Linked DNA regions of Homo sapiens: region 1 is linked to region 2. The links come from fine-mapping of genetic effects on gene expression. Tissue or cell type: ileum. Region 2 holds a variant in brackets; the other region holds the start of a gene. All regions are shown on one strand. Distances are between the middles of the regions.

Region 1 (8,175 bases), 27 kb before region 2:
AGTCGGTGCAGCCGTCGGTCCACGTACTCCTCCAGCAGGGCCAGGGAGGTGAGCGGGGATGGTGGGGCTTCCCGCAGCCGCTGCAGGTGGGCCTCATGGCCAAGTGCCAGCCCATGCACCTTGTCTAGAAGCTGCACCTTGGTCTGAAGAGTGTTGCTCACCTCTGTCACCTTGCTTAGGATCTCGTCTAAGGGAGGTGTTAGTGGCCCTCTGGCTCTGTCTCCTGGGCCCACAAGCCCCTCAGGGATGACCCCAAAGCCCACAGGGACAGCAGGAGCCCTGGGGCCACCAGTCATCCTGTTGGGATCCTCGTGGCTAGCCACCAGGCCACTGAGGGTACCATATGTTTGAGCCAGGCGCTGGACATCACCCTCCAGGCGTTCCAGCCGCTCACCAAACAGCCCTGGGCCTTTCCTTCCTGGGAAAGAGAAGAGAGCCCCAGGGGCATCACTGGCCTCACCCTCTCAGCTTGTCACAATGCCAGGCCACCCAAGAGACTTTCTGTTCTTTTTTTTTTTTTTTGAGACAGAGTCTTGCTCAGTCGCCCAGGCTGGAGTGCAGTGGTGTGCTCTTGGCTCACTGCAAGCTCCGCCTTCCGGGTTCATGCCATTCTCCTGCCTCAGCCTCCCAAGCAGCTGGGACTACAGGCACCCACCACCACGCCCGGCTATTTTTTTTCTATCTTTAGTAGAGATGGGGTTTCACGATGTTAGCCAGGATGGTCTCGATCTCCTAACCTCGTGATCCACCCGCCTCGGCCTCCCAAAGTGCTGGGATTACAGGCATGAGCCACCGCGCCCAGCCCAGACTTTCTGTTCTAAGCCTACCTTCTCACTGGGCATAACTCCCTCAGCTTTATGGTGGGGTGAAAGTGGGGCTTGGGGCTTGCCCCTCCCCATCCATGCCGGAGCTCAGCCAGCCTGGGATCAGTCCCCTCCCTGCCCCTGCCACTGAGCCCAAGAAACCCAATCACCTTGGAGGGTCTCCTTGGGCAGACTCACCATGAGGGCTGGGGGCTGCTCTGCTGTAGGAAGGGGGCCTGGGGCCTGGGTCCAGCTGCCCTGAAGGAATCTGAGGCTCAGGCTCCAGCTGGGGTGAGGCAGCCCCATGGTCCGTGAGGTGCTCAGGGCAGCGTTTCCCAGTGAAGCCGGGACAGCAACGCCAGGCGAGGTCTGTCACTGTCTTGTAGCCAACCTTGTATTTGGGTCTGAGTACTGTGCGGTACCTGGGCCAGGGAGGGCAAGAGAGTGGGATCCTGCACCTGAGGGCTGTGCTTCTCCCCCTAGCTGGCACTCAGGGCCGCCCTCAGACACTTGCATAAGGCTGGGTATCTCCCCACCTCCATAGCACCCCCAGGGCTGTACTTTTTCTGTGCTTAAGGTGACAGGGGTGGGTAAGGGCAGGCCTTCCTGAAGCTCACAGTCATGTTAGGGAAGGATGCAGGTAGAAGTCCCACCCATCCTGGTAGCTTGGAGAGAAGCAGGAATTTTGCCCCATCCCTCCCAAGACCACTTGGACCCCCTCTAGCTCAGGCTGCCATGAGAAATTCCACTCAGGCTGCAGTAGCACCTGGGAGAATCAGACACAGCCCCAGCCCTCCCTGTGGGCAGGGAGGGGCACTGCCCTGGAGCTGGCGCTGGCAGCCCCCTCACTGCCCTGGGGGCCACTCTTGGCTCCTACCTGCTCCCCTTAGTTCTTTCCACTCCTCTCTAGCCTGCTCCGGGACCTCGGCTCTGGTCAGAGAGGCAGATGGACGGGTACCTCTGATTGTGAGCAGGGAAGGGAAGGTCCAGGGTACAGGCAGGCTCGCGAGGGTCCATGCCCTCACTGTTCAGCCACGTACCTGTTCACCCACTGACACACCGGAGACAACAGGTTTGTTTCCACACACACACGTGAACCTCTCCAGGTACAGAGCTGTGCATCCCATGTGCGTGCAGCCCTGCTGCTCCGGCTTCCTCTCCCTGCCCCATGGCCTGCCTCCTTGTGGTCACCACAGTCCTCCCTGGGCCTGCCAGGCCCCCCTGTGGCATCACCCGTTGCCTAAGGGGCCCTCTGCTCCCTCCTCTCCCCTCACCTTCTGCCTCTGTCACTTCCTCCTAGCCTTGTGCTGCCTCTGCCCCCAGAACCTTCCCCTTGTCCCTCTGTGGTTCCTGGGCTCCAACCCAAGCCTGCCCCTGTCTGTGCGGGTGATGCTCTGCTGCAAGCCCAAATCCCTGGGGTCCTCCTTGGCACCCTCTTTTCTGGGGCCGCCTTCTACTCTGGCCTGTATGGGGGCTCAGGTGGGCTCTCTGGAGTCCAAGAAGCCCCTTGTGGAGTTGGCAGCTGCTCTCAGCTGAAGGCAGGACTGGCGCTTGTGCCAGGGGATTCCAAGTGTGTAGGTGAGGAGTGCACTTACGTGACTGTCCCGGGGCACTTGGGCCCCCATCTACACTGCCGGTATTCAGCCTTTACGTAGCTCTCCGCTCCCTCCTGTAGGATGCAGGTCACATTCCTGTGCACCACATAGGCACAGAGGGCCCTACAGGAGAAAATGGCACCCCTGGAATATCTGGCTGAGCGAGGCCCACAGAGGCGCCTACCCTCCCACCTCCATCTGTGGGCCTCAGCAGGACTCCAAACTCCCATGTCTCTTCTGTCTGTTCTCTGTGTCCCTGGGAGCCAACGCCCTTGGTCTGGGGTCCAGCCCCGCTGCTGGTCTCTGATTCCAGCCTCCGTGATGGGTGGCCCCTGGGCTAAGCACTATTTGGAACCAGGAGCCTGATGTGGCTGCCCCTCCCTGCGTGGGGAAGAGGCCAGCCCGGATTCTCCCTCAAGTGCCCTGCCACACCCCCCCATCCTTCGCTGATTCCAAACTCCTTATCTTGGCATTTAAGGCTTCCGAGTCCCCACTCAGTGACTCCTTTGAGAGCACCATGTCTTGTCCTTCCTCCCTGCCTGGCTCCCGGGGAAATCCACCTCTCCTCGTAGTTTTGCAGCCCCTGCCTTTGGTCCTGTTCCCTTACTCTCAGAGCAGTTCTTGTACCACCTCCTCCAGGAGGCTCGCTGTGATGTACCCAGGCCCACTGAGTGTCGGTACTCTTCCTCCTACAACAGCTCTCAAATTCAGCTAGAATTCAAGTTCAGCCAGCACCCCAGGCAGAGCCTCCAGCCCACTTAACTGAGGCCAGTTCGCAAGCCACTGCCCACGAAACACCAGAAGCTGAGGCGGGGAAAGCAGGCTCCTTGATGAGCCACAAGGGCTGAGGAGGTGGCTGCCTGGCATAAGCCGACCGCTGTGGACGGCTGTGCCACAGCACAGGCCCGGAGCCAGGAGCCCGCTCTGGCTCTGCAGCCCGGCCACGCTGGGGCTCCCATGGGGTTGCTGGGGCCAGGCTGACTGCGAGAGGGCAGCGGCCGCCCGGATGCGCAGCTCTATCTCCTACCTGGCCGGGCCAGGGGAGAGAAGGGAGGCCCGGGGCGGGGGAGCCCCGCGTGCTCAGCGCGCGGACCGCCTTTCCTCCTCTCCCTCCACCTGGTCCGCTCGCCCGGAGTCTGCACACAGCGCAGCTGGAAAATGTTACTTCGCTGGAAAGGTTTCCGCTGGCACTGCCAGGATCCCAAGCCGCCGCGCCAGGCCCCCTCGGTTCCTTTTTCCTCGCCAGCCCCGCAACCTCCCGGAGCGTAGGGCGCTCGCCTGGGCAGGGGCTCGGCCCCGGGCGCCGCCCCCTCTGTGCAGCGGCCTCGGGGTGCCCGGGGCCTCGACGCCCCCCGCGGGTGCGGGCAGGTGGGAGCGGCGACGCGCGCGGGCCCATCCCTCCCTCTTCCCGCCCGCCGCCCGCCCGCGCTTACTTGTGCGGCCCCGGGCGCAGCCGCGGGCGCCATCCCGTCGTGTAGAGACTGTAGCGGGAGGCACCGGGCGGCGCAGGCCGCGCCAGGAGCGGGGTGCCCCTGGCCTGCGCCCCCGAGAGCAGCGCCGCGACGGCGCACAGCCAGACGAGCAGGCGGCGGCGGCCCATAGCGGCCCCCGCGCCTCTGCCCGGCCCCGCGCGGTGCCCCCCGCCGGGTGTCCGCCTGCAGCGCCGCGCCGCCCCCGCCGCTGGTCGGCCCGGGTCCCGCCCCGAGGGTCCCGGGGTCCCCTTCGGCCCCCGAGCTCGCTGGCCCGGCCGCCTGGCGCTTCGCGGCGGCTGCGTCCCGCGGAGTGGCCGGCGCTGCTAGCGGCTGGGGCCGCGGAGGGGAGGCGGGAGGCGGGCTCTTTGCGGATTAGCATAAACTTGGGGCCGCGCCGCTCGCCGCCGCCAGCCCCTCGCCCCAGCTCCGAGCGGACGGCCGAGGAGCCGCCTGCGAACAGGAGGTTCCAAAGGGAGCAGCCCCAGGTGGCAGGGGCGCAGGCCGCCGCGCCCTGGGAGGCCCCCCGAGCACACCAGCCACTCTGTCGCCTGCGGGCACGGGGCGAGACGCAGAGAAGCGGACCCCTGAGGCCAGCCTGGGCGTGGACTTTCCAGGAGTCGTCCACCCTCAGGATACGCTTGTCTTCAGAGTCCGTGTGAACCCGGGAACTGCTCTCCAGGGCTCTGGAGCCGAGATGGCCGTGACTGGGGGCACAGCAGCACCACCTCCCCCGCCACCTCTTTGGAATAGACCCCAGATCATCCCCGTTTGCTCGCTCTGCCTCCTGGCCCCATCATTGCCCGGGAACCTTAGTTTGATAACTCCGCTGACCTCTCCCCAGGCATCCCACCTCCCCCTTACCCCGCAACCTCTGCCACGTAGCCTGGTGGCCCGGTTGCACCTCTGGTTCTCTGGAGGCGCCTGTGTTGCCTCTCTGTCTTAGGTATGGGTTGCACCGAGCCCGAAAGGCCTATCACCGCCCCAGCCCAGCCAAAAGTGCTGTGCTTTTCGTGCAACTGAAGCTCTAAGCCGGCTGGTCAGAGAAAATCCTCAGGTCTTTCTCACAAGGCACTGCCGCGGTGAAGCCAGGCGTCGTCCACATTTTGCTTGTGAAGTTGACTCTTGGAACCCAAGAGTTGGGTTTTATCGTCGTCCTCATTCAGTATCACCTTGCTAACTCTCTAACCTGCACAGAGTCCTTCTGATTCTGTCATCAGAGCGGTACTTTCCTGGCCTTGTCTCATCCACACCGGTGGCTACAGCCGTCTGTGTCTTTGCCCCAGGAGCTGATAGGTGTACAGAACTCTGGGGCTTGCTTGGAGAGACCTCCCTCCAAATTGACCTTGAGATATGAATTAATGCCTTTTGGATAGGGTGATGGTTATCAAGGATACTGGAAGGGGCAGCTCCGAAACCCACATCTATTTCCTGCCCTTAGCTTTAGTGGCTTTTGGGTTCTGTGGGGCGGACATCTGACCCCAGCTAGGCCCATCCTGCTTTCCCCCAGGCTTTGGAATCAGAACACAGAAGCTGAAGGAATCCAGCTTCCAGGTGTAGGTTGTGTGAGTTTCTCAGGGCTGTGGTAACAGCCACAGACTCAGTGGCTTAACACACAGAAATGTATTCTTGCACATTTCTGGAGGCTAACTCCAAAATCCATGGGCCAGCAGGGCAATGCCCCCTCCAGTGGCTCTGGGGAGAAGCCTTCCTTGCCTCTTCCAGCCACTGGTGGTTCCTGGCAATCTCTGGCGTTCTTTGGTCAAGGATTCTTTGTAGCAGCATCACTCCAGCCTCTACTTTCCCTCCGCATATCCCTCTTCAGGTGACCTTTTTTTCTCTGTGACTGTGATCTGTGTCCTTTCCTCTTCTTTCTGTTTTTGTTTTTTGAGCCAGAGTCTCGCTCTGTCGCCCAGGCTGGAGTGCAGTGGCGCGATCTCGGCTCACTGCAAGCTCTGCCTCCCGGGTTCACGCCATTCTCCTGCCTCAGCCTCCCGAGTGGCTGGGACTACAGGCGCCCGCCATAATGCCCAGCTAATTTTTTTGTATTTTTTTTTTTTTTTTAGTAGAGACGTGGTTTCACCGTGTTAGCCAGGATGGTCTCGATCTCCTGATCTCGTGATCCGTCCGCCTCGGCCTCCCAAAGTGCTAGGATTACAGGCGTGAGCCACCGCGCCCTGCCTTTCTGGTTGTGTTTTTAAATTTGAGACAGGGCTGGGCGCGATGGCTCATGCCTGTAATCCCAGCACTTTGGGAGGCCGAGGTGGGGGGATCACCTGAGGTCAGGAGTTTGAGACCAGCCTGGCCAATATGGTGAAACCCCATCTCTACTAAAAATAAAAAAATTAGCCGGGCGTGGTGGCGGGCGCCTGTAATCCCAGCTACCTGGGAGGCTGAGGCAAGAGAATCACTTGAACCCTGGAGGTGGAGGTTGCAATGAGCCGAGATCATGCCATTGCACTCCAGCCTGGGTGACAAGAGCGAAACTCCATCTCCATAAATAAATAAATAAATAGAGACAAGGTCTAGCTCCATCACCCAGGCTGGAATGCAGCGTCGACCTCCTGAGCTCAAGTGATCCTCCTGCCCCCACCTCCTCTGTAGCTGGGACCACAGTTGTGCACCACCATGCACAGCTCATTTTTAAAATTTCTGTAGAGATGGGCTCTCACTTTGTTGCCCAAGCTGGTCACAAACTCCTGAGCTCAAGTGATGCTCTCACCTCAGTCTCCCAAATTGCTAGGATTCTAGGCGTGAGCCACTGCACCCAGCCCAGCCTCCTCTTCTTATAAGGACACCAGTCATTGGATGTACAGCCCAACATAACCTCATCTCAAATGATTACGTCTACAAAGACCCTATTTCCAAATAAGGTCACATTCTGAGGTTCCAAATGTTCATGAATTTTGGGAGGGGCACAATTCAATCCACTACAGGGGCACTTGGCTGGTAATGATAGGAGAGACCACGAGAGCTCTGGGGGAATCATGGGAAAGGGAGAAAGAGTGTGGTCAGGGGAGAGAGGGGCAGAGTCAGGGGCTATGTGGTGAGTAACCATCTGGGGACAAGCTGTGACTTCCCTATCTGCTTCCAGTAGTCCACCATTGGAGCTAGCTTGAATGGGTTTCTGATCCCAGCAACCAAATGTGCTCTACAGAGAGAAACTTCTCTAGTCATGAACTGTAGAAATGATCCCTGAAAGTATAGTCTTACAGCAACCACATGGTCCCTAAGACAGCCTTTCACTCTCCCTATAAAAGCACCGAATGTGCTATTATATGCTCCAACCTCTAAGAGAGATGTTATGAACCATTTTGCTGAGGGCAAGATACACCATATCCCCAACAAGCTCTTGATCTTGTAACCACTGACTTTGCGCTTTTTAGGAAGTGAGAAACATCTGAGCCAGCTCCTCATCCTAGGCTGGGTGCTGACTGCCTGGCAGCATTGCCCAGCCTGGCTCTGGGAGGAACTCCCCCACCCCAGAGGCTGTGATCTTTTTCCAAGTGGTCCCACCCCTTCCTCTCACTCCCTTCCCCAGCCCCAGATGTGGGGCCCAAAACTCACAAGGAAGAGGCTGGACCCTGTTTGAGCTTGGAAATATCCACGTCATAGGGGCTAAAAGGATAGCTGGACCCCACTTCCCCCTTTCCCAGGTGGCTGACATCAAACACCATGCTCCCTCTTTCACTGCAACAGTTTTGGGATCCAGGATCTGGGCCCCATTCTAGTGGGGGTGGAGGACCTCAGTACAGGGAGATGCTCAGGGTCTTGGCTGGATCAGGCCAGAGCGGGGGTCCCCCCATAGACGATGAGGCCACTTTGCATCTGCCAGACAGGAAACCTAGGGAGGCCAGAAGCAGAGGAGGAAAGGAGGCAGTCATGTTCCTCTGACTCAGACTGGAGTTTCTACACCTGGATGGAAACGGGCCATACACGGGAGTGGGAGTGCAGTTTCAGTTCACAGGGACATGCACAACCACACCCAACCCATCCCCCATACCACTATCATGCATGTGCATGAGTTTTTCCTTTCGTACAGATGGGGTCTCACTATGCTGCCTAGGCTAGTCTCAGACTCCTGGCCTCAAGTGATCCTCCTGCTTTGGCCTCCCAAAGTATTGGGACTGCAGGGGTGAGCCCTATGCATCCTGCCTTTCTTTTCTGTTCTTTTCTTTTTTTTCTTTTCTTTTTTTTTTTTTACGGAGTCTCACTCTGTTGCCCAGGCTGGAGTGCAGTGGCGTGATCTCGGCTCACTGCAACCTCTGCCTCCCAGGTTCAAGCAATTCTCCTGACTCAGCCTCCCAA
Region 2 (8,175 bases):
TCTCAGTTCACTGCAACCTCCTTCACCTGAGAAGCCAACATGTTTTTATGCCAAAATATGTTCCAGAGGTTTTGATCCCTTTTGGGTTTTCTCTTTTGAATATTTCTGCACTTAAGAGAAACCTAGTAAGTGTTATAACACGAATAATAATAGGATCTATAACAAATGATGAACAGTTATTGCCTCTACCTCAGGGAGGTAAAAGGGGAGGGCTTTTACTTCCTTAGCCATACATTTCCACACTTCTCATCCCCCTCCTGCTCGTTCCTCTTCTTTTTTCTGGATAGCATGTATAACTTTAAAAATCGAGGAGAGGGGGGAATTGAAAATTTGAAAAAAAAAAAAAAAACAGGGCAGAAATGATGGATTACTTAAGATGTGGGACTGGACAACTGGCTAACAATTTGGAAAAAAGTTAGATTTCTACCTTAAATCTAAATATACTGCAGATGGCTTAAAGATTTAAATGCTAGAAGGTAAACCATAAAAGAATCCGAATACTTACACAATTTTAGGATAGGGGACAACTTCCTAAGAAGACATCATATGAACAGACTGATAGATTTCATGACATAATAATGGGAGGCTTCTTTCTAACAAAACATAATAAAATAAGGTCAAACTGTGAAAAAAAAGACAAACAATATTTAACAGAGGATCAAGCATTTTAATATAGAAAAAGCTCTTACAAGAATTCCTGCCTCATAATTGTTTTCCCTAAGCCAAGAATGGGGGGGAATTTGACCACAGTGAAATCAGGGTTTCTAAGGGCAGGAGGAAGGTAGGAGGGGAGGGGCTGAACGGAGTTTTCAGGATGGGGGTGGACAGCTCAGGGGGACAGCTCCAGGGCCAGGGTTGGGTGACCTCCATGTGGCAGGGGTTCCCCACTCTCCCTGGCATTCACAGTCTTATCTGGTGCCAGTCACTTCCCCAGCCAGCCTGACCTCCCTGCCTGGGACATTTAACATTTTGCCATCTTCCTCACACATCAGGCATTTCCCTGTTTCCATGACTTTTGCAAATGCTGGTCCTTCTGCTTGGCTCACTCTCTTTCATCTCTACCTGAAAAAAAATCCAACTGCTCCTTCAAGGCTCAGCTCAAATATCCCCTGTTCTGCAAAACTGTCTTTAATCCATCTGCCCCCACTGCCCCCAAGGAACTCCCCTTGGGCTCCTATGGCAACTGCCCATCAGTCTATTCAGCACTTACTATACAGCATTGTCATTTTCTGCTCACTGGCTCACTCTAGACAGGGAGCTCCAGGGACCCCTTTCCCCTTCTCCAGGTCCGGCAAAGAGCAAGTGCTCAATTAATATTTCATGAACAAATGCATCGTACTGTGAGTGACAGAGCAGGGCAACTGAACTGACACTAGTTGAGCTTCAGGTTCAGTCCATTTCTTTTATATTTTTTGAGACAGGGTCTTGCTCAGTCACTCAGACTGGAGTGCAGTGGCATGATCATGGCTCACTACAGCCTTGAACTCCCGGGCTCAAGCAATCTTATCACCTCAGCCCCCTAAGTAGCTGAGACTACAGGTATGTGCCATTGTGCCCGGCTAATTTTTTATTTTTTGTAGAGATGGGGCCTTGCTATGTTATTAAGGCTGGTCTCAAGCTCCTGGCCTCAAGAGGTCCTCCTGCCTGAGCCTCCCAAAGTGCTGGGATTATAGGCATGAGCCATTGTGCATGACTGATTTATTTCCTAAAACAGCATGCTTTTATTTAAAATAAGGGCAAGTTATTTAACTATGATGCAATTAAGAGAAATAATTATGTATAATTCAATTATGATGCAATAATTTATCATAACTGCATCATAGTTAAAAGATGCCAAGTTACTGTAAGATCAGAAGACCTACGCTAAGGCACAGTGGTACGTGAATGCACTTGAACTATTGAAAGCCGCTGTCAGACTCCACAATGGCTTTCATTTTTATTTATTTATTTATTTATTTATTTATTTTATTTATTTTTTATTTTTATTTTTGAGACAGAGTCTCGCTCTGTCGCTCAGGCTGGATGGAGTGCAGTGGCGCGATCTCGACTCACTGCAAGCTCCGCCTCCCGGGTTCACGCCATTCTCCTACCTCAGCCTCCCGAGTAGCTGGGACTACAGGCGCCCGCCACCACGCCCGGCTAATTTTTTGTATTTTTAGTAGAAACGGGGTTTTACCGTGTTAGCCAGGATGGCCTCAATCTCCTGACCTCGTGATCCGCCCGCCTCAGCCTCCCAAAGTGCTGGGATTACAGGCGTGAGCCACCGCGCCCGGCCCATTTTTAAAACATTTATAAACAAAAGAGGTTTAATTGACTCATAGTTCTGCATGACTGAGCAGGCCTTAGAATCATGGTGGAAGGCAAGGAGAAGCAAGGCACATCTTACATGAGGGCAGGAGGTGGCGGGGCAGAGAGAGAGAGCGCGCCTCAATGGCTTTCAATAGTTCAAGTGCATTCACACCAGGCGCATTCCTGCGCTTGAGATTCCTAGCATCAGCCAGGAGCGGCTTAGTGGGAGAAAGAGCTGCGACGGTGATGATAGTGACATTCCAAAGTTTTGTGGCAACATGAAGGAGGAGGTGTGTCTGCGCTTGCACAGTGACTGCAGCCCTTGGGCAGATGTGGAGAATGTGTGAGGCTAAAGGCTCCCACGCAGCATGGGGCATGGGGAGCCTGAATGTAAGCCCCAGGGCAGGAAGTTTTGCCTATTTGCTCACCGTGTAATCTCCAGCATCTAGAATAGCATAGTAGGCCTTTGGTAAATATCTGTTGAATGGAAGGACTAAAATTAGTTCTGGAAGTGTCTGGGGATGGGGCTTAAGTTACCTCTGCAGGGTCTCCAAGGCTAAATCCTTTTCCTGAGTTAGAAAAACAGGGCTGTTCTCACTGAAGTTTTGGCCTTCAGAGTGTGATGAGGAGTGCAAAGGGGCACGGGGCAGCTTCAAGGACAGGGCTGGGACCACAGAGGGTGAGAAAAGGGCACAAGGGAGGAGGGGTGCTCCCAAGATGGCAGCCCCTAGAGATCTGGGCTGGGTCTTGCTTTCCTCCCTGGGGCCAGTGCAGCAGGAGAGGGTGCTGGGTAGGGGTGCTGGGGGCTGAGAGGACCAACCCAGCTTCACCAGGCCCAGAAGAGAAGATGCACACAGGGAGAAGGCAGCTGTATGCAGTGGGCTCAATAAAGAGGATTTGGGCTGGGCGTGGTGAGTCATGCCTATAATCTCAGTGCTTTGGGAGGCCAAGTGGGGAGGATGGCTTGAGGCCAGGAATTCCAGACCAACCTGGGCAACACAGCAAGACCCCATCTCTATGATACATTTAAAAAAAAATTAGCCAGGTGAGTGGTGCACACCTGTAGTTCTAGTTACTTGGGAGGCTCAGGTGAGGGGATCAGTTGAGCCCAGGAGTTCAAGGTTGGTTACGGCAAGCACTCCAGCCTGGGTGATGGAATGAGAAATGAAACCCTGTCTCTAAATAAATAAATAAATAAAAAGATTTGCCTCTGTATAACAGGAGTTTGAATTTAGGGCTCAAAAAGTCAAGTACATTCTCAAAATCACTCAGAGAGTGACAAAATCAGGATTCAATTTCACATCTTTCTAATTCCAGAGCCTGACTTTTTTTCACTCCGCTAAAAAAAGTGACGTCACAGGCACATGGCAGGCATGGAGCCCCAGGCGAGCCAGGTCTCAGTCTGGGTCAGTGTAGCCCCAGGGCTGGGATCAGAACCACAGTCGTTCTGGAGACAGGGCCAAACTAGGGTTAGAGGTCAGGGAGGCCAGGCCTGAGAACAACAGGCTTTCCGGGCTTTGTGCC[C/A]CCAGCCAGACACAGTGTCCTGGGATTGGTGGCAGGGCCTGCTGGAGCCCCCAGCTCCCTCTTTCCACCCCCCATCTAGGGCCTGGCCTGACCTTCCTCCCCAGGGCAAGGAACTGGCCTGGCTCTTATCCTGGAGGAGGCTGCAGCTGCTCCTGCAGCCCTGGTCCCAGCAGACAAAGGCGCTTTCTTTCCTAGTACAAGGTCTTGATTGCATGTTGCCCTGGATCCAAAAGTTCCTATGGAGGAAGCAGTTTCCTCCCAGGGTGTGTGTGTGTGTGTGTGTGTGTGTGTGCACGCACGTGTGTGCTGGGTTTCAGGGAGTTGGGCTGTCAGGGAGTGCAAGCCCTCTCCCAGCCTCCTGGGTTTAGCCTGGCATTGCTCAATCTGCATCCTTTGTGTACATCTCTAAGTGTCTATGCATGTGTGTGTACGTGGTGGTGTGTGATTGTATGTATGAGCATGTTTGTGCATGTCCCTGCAGCTGCAGGTGCGACTGCCTAGTATGTACCTGTGCATATTTCTGTACACATCAGCACATGCTTATACACAGTCGCAAGCCTACGTATCTGTGTAACTTGTGTCTGTGCCCACATGCGTTTGGGGGTGTATGCATATGTTTCATGTGTGTGTCTACATGAGACACCTGGTACCAGGTCCCTAACTCTGCTGCCTCTGGCTGTGCCTCCCCACACCCTCTGCTGCTGTGTGGGGGCTCTGCAGTATGCAAGTCCTCCTAAAATAGCCCCCTTTCTTCTTCCCAACCCCCGGCCCCGCCTCTGCATTTGTCTGGGAACAACCTGGCCTCTTTCAGCTCTGGGAGGAAGACAGGTTTGTACAGCTTGGCTTGGCCCATACACTTTCCAAAACTCTCTGGCTCCCAGCCAAACTCTTTATAAAAAGGCTCATGGGGAATAGCCTAACAGGAAGGTGGGAACTCTGCCTGGGGGGCTCAGGAACCCTGCTCCAAGCCCCAAGATTAAATGGGAGCATCAGTCAGCTGAACTTCAGCCAGAGACGGCCCTGCAGCCTGAAGGTGAACTTGGTCAATGGACCCTTCACCCCCAAAGATGGGGACACAGCATCTCAAGGTCTCATGTCCAGGGTGGCAGAGCTCGGAGGGGTCCCAGGGCTCAGGCAGCTCAACTCCCCATGGGCACACTGGAGGGAGAGGCCCAGAGTGATGCCCCAGACCAGGCAGGAGCTGAGCCACTTCCTAGCATCCTGCAGCCCCAGGCCCTGGTGACCCTGCCATGGATAACCCTGGGTCTGCCTCTTCTGCAGGGAGGTGGGTGCCACTGCCAGACTTCAGAGTAGCAGGCTCTGAGCCTGGCTGGCCCTTTTGCTCAAGGCCTCCTGAGTCCATATCACAAAGTCAGTGTTTGAGCACAGGGTTGGTTTACCCAGCACTTGCCTTACTTGGGGTGCAGGGGACCTCAAGCTGTTTCTCCTAGTCCCACTGAGGCACAAGAGAGGGGCTTTCTGTACTGCTATCTCCCCTACTGGGGCTCAACCCAGTCTTTTTTTTTTCTTTGAGACTGAGTCTCACTCTATTGCCCAGGCTGGAGTGCAGTGGTGCAATCTTGGCTCACTGGAACCTCCGCCTCCCGCGTTCAAGTGATTCTCCTGCCTCAGCCTCCTGAGTAGCTGGGATTACAGGCACGCACCACCATGCCTGGCTAATTTTTGTATTTTTAGTGGAGACGGGGTTTCACCATGTTGGCCAGGCTGGTCCCGAACTCCTAATCTCAAGCGATCCACCCAACTCGGCCTCCCAAAGTGTTGGAATCACAGGTGTGTGCCACCGTACCTGGCCTCCACTGGGTCTTAAGGGTGCCCTAGGGTGAAGATGGGAGGGCAGTCCAATGGGTAAGACCCTATCTCAAGTGGATGCTCAGGGCACAGGTGGCACCCCCCTCACTGGTCTGTCACAGGAGACACAGGGGCTGCTGCTGGAGATGCCACAGCCGTGTGGGAGGGGCAGGCTGGTGGGGCAACTGAGGAAGAGGATCCCAGAAGCCTGGGTTCAGACATGGCTCCAGGGGGCTCCTGGGTGCTGGAAACAGACGAGACACCCTCAAAGAGGCTGGTTCCTTCAGTCCATCCCCACTGACCGCTGCCAACCACCCCTTTCCTCTTCCCTTCAGAAACCTTTTTCCAGGCGGGAGGGATGGTAGCTGGGAAGCTTTGCTCTTATCTGGCATGTGCCCAGGCCAGGCACCGAAACTCAAAAGCCAAGCAGAGAATCTTTTTTTGTCTGCTTCCGATTGTCGTACCTTGTCCCTGAGAGACACTCATGGACCAGCCCAGCTTGAAAAGGAGCCAGAGAACACAAGAAACAACCAGTAACTCCAAAGAAAGGTCAGGGTTTCAAGAACATTGTGCCCCCCCGGTTGACTGTGCAGAGCAAGTACCTCTTTGGATGGAGGTTTTATTTCTTTGAACTCTTGTTCCTTACAGAGGCTGGGAGTGGTTGGGCCCACAGGGTGGGGGTGGTGGACTCCTTGTCCTTGGGCCTGTTTTGGGGATGCTGGGTTGCGCACTGGGAGTGGAGTTGGTGGGGGCTCTGAATTCTCCCACGCTCAGTCTAGGGATGGGAGCTGCCTCTTTCTTCCCTCATGGGATGCTAATTATCCTCAACTTGTCTGGGAGAAGAAAGGAAGTAGCTGCAGGGGCTTAGCCAGGAGGAACACCTGCTCCCCTGCCCCACCGCCCTCCAGCTCTCCCTCCCTCCCTCCTTCCCTCTCTCTCAGATGCACACCAACACTAGGAGTATCCTTATATACGTATGTGCTGCTTCTTGACGGGGAAATTTGACAAGGGACTGGGGTGAGGGTAGGGGTGTCTTCTACCTGGGGAGGCCCAAGGGGCTGCGGCTGGGGCTTTCCTCAGCCTCATACAATCCACCGCCCCGCCCCCAACCCCTGCCCAAGGCACTCACGGTGCCTTGTGCCTCCGGGCTCTTTGCCGGTCTGGAAAGTCTGGGATCTGTGAATGGAAAAGCCTGGGTCAGAGCTGGAGTGGGGAGTGGGTGGGGGTTGGGAGCTGTGTCTACAGAGTTTAGAGTTTTCTTGGTCTGAGCCAGGAAAGAGTCTAAACACCCAGCAGTGCTGAGTCCTTGCCTGCCCTGTGCAGCGTGGACCTTCCTCGGCCCAGCTCTCCTGCCCTATGCAGGCTTTGGGAGTCCCTGAGGATTTTCAAAGAGCCCCAAGGCGCTGGGGACAGAGAAAGGTGAGGCCAGGTTGTCATCCTGAGGGGGAACAGGCACACACAGCCAGCAGGGGCCTGATGGTAGATGAGACCAGGGTGACGTGGCAAAGCTGCTTCAGTCTGGCCACAGCACTGCATCGACCTGGACTCTTGAGCCTCTCCTAGTGTCCTGCTTCTGAGAGCCAGCTGGACATCTCAGTGGGGAACAGGACAGTCACTCTCGAGGCAGGAGGATCGCTTGAGCCCAGGAGTTCGAGGCTACAGTGAGCTGTGATCACACCACTGCACTCCAGCCTGGGTGACAGAGGGAGATTTTGTCTCAAAAAAACAAAAACAAAAACAGACAAACAAAAAAGACTCAGTGTGAAGAGGGGAGGGGGACAGGGCAACTCCAGTGTTTCCTCCAAAGTGAAAGTATGCCCTCGGGTTTGGAGGCTGGCCCTCAAGAAGCATGCCCAAAGCCAAGGGCTTCTTGGAAGCATTTTATCTCAAAAGTAGACATGAATCTTATATTCCACTATGTGATTCATTTTTATACAAAACCATGTTGGAGTTAATATGAAATATATATATATATATATATATATGTATGTGTGTGTGTGTATTTTTTGAGATGGAGTCTCACTCTGTTGCCCAGGCTGGAGTGCAATGGTTCCATCTCGGCTCACTGCAACCTCTGCCTCCTGGGTTCAAGCAATTCTCCTGCTTCAGCCTTCCCAGTAGCTGGGATGACAGGCTCCTGCCACCACACCTGGCTAATTTTTGTATTTTTAGTAGAGATGGGCTTTTGCCATGTTGGCCAGGCTAGTCTCGAACTCCTCACCTCAGATGATCCGCCCGCCTTGGCCTCCCAAAGTGCTGGGATTACAGGCATGAGCCACTGTGCCTGGCCATATGAAATATTTTAAATGAGTTTTTGCATTGAATCTATGAATAAAATTGATGCTGCAGGATGGGGATCGACAAACTTTTTCTGCAAAGGATCAGACAGTATAATAAATATTTTCGACTTTGCAGGCTGTGTGGTCTCTGTGACCACTGCTGTCGTAGCCCAAAAGCAGCTTTGTATAGACAATACACAAAGGAATGAGTATAGCTGTGTTTAATAAAACTTTATTTATGGCCACTAGAATTTGGATTTGGGATCTTTTTTTT

Evidence for each region. PIP is the estimated chance that this variant, and not a neighbour inherited with it, causes the effect.
Region 1: it holds the start of EMILIN3, and the variant in region 2 is fine-mapped to the expression of EMILIN3 in ileum (GTEx, PIP above 0.99). The same link has a PIP of 0.9 or more in esophagus muscle.

Annotation. Positions count from the first base shown.
Region 1 is chr20:41,362,637-41,370,811 of GRCh38, forward strand. It overlaps EMILIN3 (elastin microfibril interfacer 3), which reads right to left and starts at 4,182. Exons shown (of 4, transcript NM_052846.2): 1 at 3,832-4,182; 2 at 2,399-2,521; 3 at 1,002-1,225; 4 at 1-418. The coding sequence starts at 3,998. It also overlaps the pseudogene LOC124904985. RefSeq lists an enhancer at 2,919-3,420.
Region 2 is chr20:41,389,298-41,397,472 of GRCh38, forward strand. No RefSeq gene overlaps it. Among named protein-coding and RNA genes, the nearest start is that of EMILIN3, 27 kb to the left of the region's middle. RefSeq lists an enhancer at 2,376-3,041. The variant C/A (reference allele first, on the strand shown) is at 3,814.